2 separate regions of the Homo sapiens genome follow, and region 2 is linked to region 1. Evidence: fine-mapped expression QTL. A gene starts in region 1. The other region holds a variant in brackets. All regions are shown on one strand. Distances are from middle to middle.

Region 1 (2,913 bases):
TTATTAATTGCTCTGTCATGCTACTTCTCATGCAAAGGAAATCCATCATCTCAATCATTCATTTTGCAGATGAGGAAAATAAAGCCCATTTAGTTTAAGGCATTTGTCCAAAGTAACACAGCTAGTGACTAGAACCACGTGCCCTGGCTACCACTTCCGAGTGACATCAGCTGCCGATCCATAAGAAATACCTTCAAACCAATGCAGGGGTAAGATAAAAATTACACGTTACTTTTCAAAAGTGTTGTGAAAATAGGGGAAAAAAACCACCAAACCTGTAAGGAAACATAACCGAAGGCTAACCGTAGGTAAGCATATGAGTAGTAAGACAATGGGTGATTCGTTTTTTTTTCATCTCTTTCCTCAATCCTTACAGCATTTCAATGTTCTATAATGTGCTTATGTTATAATTGGCAAATACATGCTACAGTTTTGTGGAGACTAAAAACAGCTGTTGAAAAAAGGGAGCAGAAAAATATTCAATCATTAAAAAAATCCCCTTACAGTAAGGGATTTCAGCTACTTGTCTAAAAAAAGCATACTACTTCAGCGGTTCCGGAAGAGGGAAGAGAGGTAATTCATATTACAAATTAAATTAAAAGTTAAAATTTCTAGTTAAGTAACTTATTAAGCACAACATGCAATAAAACGTTGTCCACTTTTGACTTTACAGATTTGGGATGGAAAGAAAATGCAACGTTTCCTACAACCACCCACTTTAACCCTTTCACTGCCAGTTTGAAAAGGAAAAACACTAGCTAATACAGGCTGACTGGGAATCATCAGATTACAAATCGTTCTCAGAACGATCTAACATTTTATTGCTTAAGGTAGAGGTATTAGCGTATTTTTAAAGTGTGTCTTCCAGTAAGTTGCAGAACTTCCCGCTGAAATTCAAAATACTATACGTTCACACTGACATTACTGAAACTGCAAGAGTTGAGCTCCCTACTTGATTGGGGTAGTAAGCACAAAAATGGTTTTGAGGGAACGGAGCAGGGAGGGGCAGTGATCTGCAAGGCTGATTAATCCCATACAAGACAGCGCTTGTTGCGGGGTAAGGTGCTGTTTTTAAGACAGCTCTTGTTGCGGGGCAAGGTGCTGTGGAGCCACAAAGATGCGACAGAATGGATCCCGATTCTCCTGGAACTCCGGATCAAGAAAATATGAGGGGCGTGAGCCCAGAAGTGCGACGCAAGAGACCCGCGGAAAGGTGACAGAACGAGTGGCACCAGACTCAGAAAGTTGGGGAGTTAGGAAGCCTGAAATCGCCGCAGGAGTCGTGAGAGGGGAAGTGACAGTCTCTTCAGAAGGTCACGGGAAACCGGGTCCCAGGGCAGTATCCCCACAGAGGGCTGCGTCTCCGGGCTGGGGCAGGCGGCAGCGAAAGGGAGACGCGGCTCCGGGGCCACCCCAGTCCCGGCAGGAGTTCTGCCCGGAGGTCTGGGATGCCCTCGGCCAGGCCTCACCTCGGGAGCGGAGGATCCTGAAGGCAGAAAAGCGGCTGAGGATGCCAATCGCCCGGCAGGCCACCATCTTGAGCTGAAGAGGACAGCAGTGGAGAGCGCCTCTAACGGGTGCGGCCGAGCGGAGGACTTTTCTCCCGTAGCCTGGCAGCCAGGCGCCTGGAGCACTGCCTGACTAAAACCCAGATGCCGAGTGGCCGCCGGCCCCTTAGCCCTGCCCCTCGCTCCTGGCTAACATGGCCGAAAGGTCGTATTCTCCGGGGGAGGACGGGGGCCCGGAGAGGAGGGGGTGGAGTGCCTGGTTTTCCAGTCAGGCGGCCGGAGGGCAGCCCTCAAGAACGGCCCTGACCGCCCGCGGGGTGAGGGGCCCTTTCTGGGCAGGACCCGCCCCTTGGTCCCGCAGAGCCTTGGTACTTGGACCTGAACCTTGCTCCGAGAGGGAGTCCTCGCGGACGTCAGCCAAGGTGAGACGGCGAGCCCTCAGCTCTCCGCCCGGGCTTTCCCAAAGGCGAGATTCCACTTCCTTCCCCGCAACTGTCGCCGGTGCCCCCGGCCCCCTCCCCTCCCTGGGAAAGTGGGAGTTGAGGGAGCGGAAGGAAACTCCTCGGACAAGGTCGGCAGTGCTAGCTGCAGTTAGGACAGTGACTTGGACTAGCGTTCCAGCTGAAGTTCGGGACAGTAGTGTCACCTGCGCCCTAATTTATCATCACAAGTTAACGAAGTCTGGGGGTGTGGGGGTGTGTGTGTGTGTGTGGGTGTGTGTGGGCGTGTGTGGGCGTCGGCCTTAATGTAACCCTGGTCTGCGTAGAAGTGTGTGTTGTTTCGCCTGCTTCCCCTGTACCCAGGTCGGCGGCTATAGAGATTGTGGACGGCGCCATGGGTTTGCCCGATTTCTGCTGTAAAGAATAAGACTAGGTCAGGTGACCTTTCGGGGCTTGAGTGTGGGAGGAACGGAGACAATCCTCCATCCGGCTCCGTTATCCAGATAATCCTGCGCTCTCGGGGGTTTTCCGATCTGGATGATTATCTATCTGGTCGTTCACACCTCAGCTCACTTAAGCGGTGAAGAAACTGCCTACGAATCAGAGAGAGTGATTTTACCCATGGCCATATGTAGTAGAAATAAGACTGGAGCCTAAGTCTACTAACTCCTAGTGAAGAGTTCTTCATTGCATGGTAGCTGTTTTTGTGCTGGAATGATGGGCTGGAGTCCTGGAATAAAGTGATTGATTTCAAAAGGAAGTCACATTGAGAGCCTGCTGTGCTCTGGTCACCTTCATACCTTTTTGTTTAGTCCTCACATTCCCCAAATTATTATCATTTGCATTTTCTAGATGAAGTTTGGGAAGCTCAGAATATATACATTTTCTAGTCTGTGACAGACCTAGCATTCAGACATAAGTCTGAGTCTCACTACTCGCCAGACTGACAGCTCTGCAGGACAGGA
Region 2 (2,913 bases), 620 kb before region 1:
TCAGCCTCCTAAGTAGCTGAGACTACAGGCGCCCACCACCACGCCCGGCTAATTTTTTGTATTTTTAGTAGAGACGGGGTTTCACCGTGTTAGCCGGGATGGTCTCCATCTCCTGACCTTGTGATTTGCCCTCCTTGGCCTCCCAAAGTGCTGGGACTACAGCTGTGAGCTACCGTGCCCAGCCAATAATTTCCCTTTTAATCATGATTCTAAGTTGCCAGCTTAGCAAGGCAACTTAGCACGGCAGTATGGAAGAAGAATGATTCAGAGACAGGTGTTCTTAAAATGAAGTAAGCGTGTAAGGTAAGGTACTACTAGCCTGTCATATGCAGCAATCATAAAGTTGAGGAGGAGGCTGATAGATTGTTCCACACTAATTTGGTGAGTAGAAGGAAGGCGCTTGTTCAACTGATAGTAGATGGAGGAGATGACAGTTTCGAGGCGGGACACACTGATCTCGGTGGTATGGTCCAGTGTATTAAGGCCATTGTCTCGGAAGGCTTCAATCATGTTCCAGATATCAACAAGATGAACTAAAAGACAAAGAAAATAAACTGTCAACAATTTTAAAGTGTGGTACTACCCTTCACAATAGGAATCTAAAATTTATCAACTAGTTCTTAAGTTTAAAGAGAAGAAACTCTTTAGCCAACAATGAGGAAAACATTCTGTGGTCAAATAAAGAACATCAGTCCCAGACAACATCAAGGAGCCACCACAGCGGTATGGGAAGGACTACTTCCAGCCTTCACATTTAAATAGCGAGTATTTCACGTCTCTGCAAATAGTGACCCATGCAATTCCTAACAATGGATAACTTGATAAAAAGATCAAGAACTACTCCTAAGAACTTCTAGTCTTTTTGAAAATTTGCTGTATTACCTTGAGTCAGCTTTACTGTATTACTTTAGCCGAGCAACTAAAGCAACATTTTACAACTGAAACTTTACTGTATGACCCTAAAGAGAGAGACAAATACAACTGCATTAAGTAAAATATTAATATGCTTTAGAGGCTACTCAGAGCTCTGAACAACTCATAGCTCAGCCAAAAATAAATTTATCTACTGCATATTTCCTCCATTATTTAAGAGGCTGACTTTCTTTTAAATTCCATTTCCAGTAATAAAGTAGGCGCGGTAGCTGGGTCTACACTCTTCTTGAAAACGACAAAAATTCCTGGATGGAATATAAAAACTTCTTAAGTGCACAAAAAAAGTAAACAATACTCAACTACACAGAAAAGAGACATTTCCTTGAAAGAAAAATAATTAAGAATGATGCCTGACTTCAAGCAACAAAGGAAGCAGAAGACTGCAAAATAATTTTAATGTGTTGAAAAGAAATCAAAACCACCAACAAAATTCTACACCTAGTATAAAAAAACTTTCAAGAAAAAAGGTTCAATAAAGACATTTTCAAGTAAAGGAAATCTGAAAGTATACTTTCCAACGCTGAAAAACTAGGGGAAGAACTGAAATTAGGAAAACACAACTATTCAAAAGAAGGCAAGAAACACAGAACAAGCAGCAAAAATAGCACAAGAAAAGATGGCTGGTGCGGACCCAAATATGTCAGTTAACTGCAGTGACTATAAACACACTAACGTACCACTTACAAGACAAAGACTGACAAATTCACAATTTTTTAAATAACCAAATTATACGCTGTTTGTAAGGGATATGTCTAAAACAAAAGGACATAAAAAAGATTTAAATATAAGTGGATGACAATTTTCAACCAAAACAAAGGTGATGTAACTTTAT[T/C]CGTAACAGGAAAAAAAGGGGGGAGGGCGGAGCTTGGAAAACCATATGATCAACTCAATAGACATAGAAGTAGCATTTGGAAAAATCAAATACCCTTTCATAATAAAAACACAACAAACTAAAAACAGAAGAAAACTTCCTCAACCTGATAAAGGGCATCTACAACAAATCCCAATGCCAACATCATACTTAATCAGGGAAGACTGAAAGCTCTCCCCTCAAGATCAGGAACAAGACACTTCAAGTACAGGCAGCAAAAAAGAGATACGCTGCATTTTATTTAAATTTTAAAAGTCTGTGTTTCAAAGGATACTATCAAGAAAGTGAAAAGGCAACCCAAAGAATGGAAAAAAATATTTGTAAACCATGCATCCATTAAGGGTCTGGGATCCAGACACATAAAAACTCTTACAATTCAACAATTAAAAAAAGATAACCCAATTTAAAAATGGGAAAATAATTTAAATAGATATTTATCCAAAGAAGATATACAAATGGCCAACAAGCACATGAAAAGATGCTCAACATCATTAGTCATTTAGGGAAATGCAAAAGAAAACTACGATAACATACCACTTCACACCAGCCAGAATAGCTAGACTTTTTATTTAAATGGAAAACAAGGGTCAGCGAGGATGTAGAGAAGTTGAAATTCTCATAAACTGCTGGTGCAAATGCAAAAGCATGCAGCTGCTTTGGAAAACAATTTAGGAGTTCCTTAAGAAGTTACACACAGGTCCCATACGACCCAGCAATTCCACTCCTACAGAATTGAAAACATATGTCTACACAAAATCTTGTACAAATGTTCATAGGTGCATTATTCATAAAAGCCAAAAGTGAAAACAACCCAAATGTCCATCAATATAGATACACGGATAAATAAAATGTGGCATATGCATATAATGGAATACTATTTGACCAAAAAAAGGGATGAAGTGGCCAGGCACGGTGACGGTGGCTCATGCCTGTAATCCCAGCACTTTGGGAGGCCGAGGCGGGTGGATCACTTGAGGTTGGGAGTTCGAGACCAGCCTGGCCAACATGGAGAAACCCCATCTCTACTAAAAATACAAAATTAGCCAGGTGTGGTGGCACACGCCTGTAATCCCAGCTACTCAGGAGGCTGAGGCAGGAAAATCGCTTAA

Alleles and levels. Alleles are on the strand shown, and positions count from the first base shown. SD is a standard deviation of normalised expression in the study named.
In carriers of allele T in region 2, the expression in whole blood of the gene that starts at base 1,572 in region 1 tends to be higher than with C alone (moderate effect, 0.54 SD a copy in Lepik 2017).

Evidence for each region. PIP is the estimated chance that this variant, and not a neighbour inherited with it, causes the effect. A credible set is the group of variants that fine-mapping cannot tell apart.
Region 2: its variant is the best candidate, but not a certain one, in a credible set for the expression of HADHA in whole blood (Lepik 2017, PIP 0.85).

Annotation. Positions count from the first base shown.
Region 1 is chr2:26,243,061-26,245,973 of GRCh38, forward strand. It overlaps HADHA (hydroxyacyl-CoA dehydrogenase trifunctional multienzyme complex subunit alpha), which reads right to left and starts at 1,572. Exons shown (of 20, transcript NM_000182.5): 1 at 1,470-1,572. The coding sequence starts at 1,536. HADHB (hydroxyacyl-CoA dehydrogenase trifunctional multienzyme complex subunit beta) reads left to right here and starts at 1,879. Exons shown (of 16, transcript NM_000183.3): 1 at 1,879-1,930. RefSeq lists enhancers at 1,414-2,094, 1,949-2,048, 2,907-2,913.
Region 2 is chr2:25,627,852-25,630,764 of GRCh38, forward strand. It overlaps DTNB (dystrobrevin beta), which reads right to left. Exons shown (of 21, transcript NM_021907.5): 4 at 320-533. Among named protein-coding and RNA genes, the nearest start is that of DTNB, 44 kb to the right of the region's middle. The variant T/C (reference allele first, on the strand shown) is at 1,766.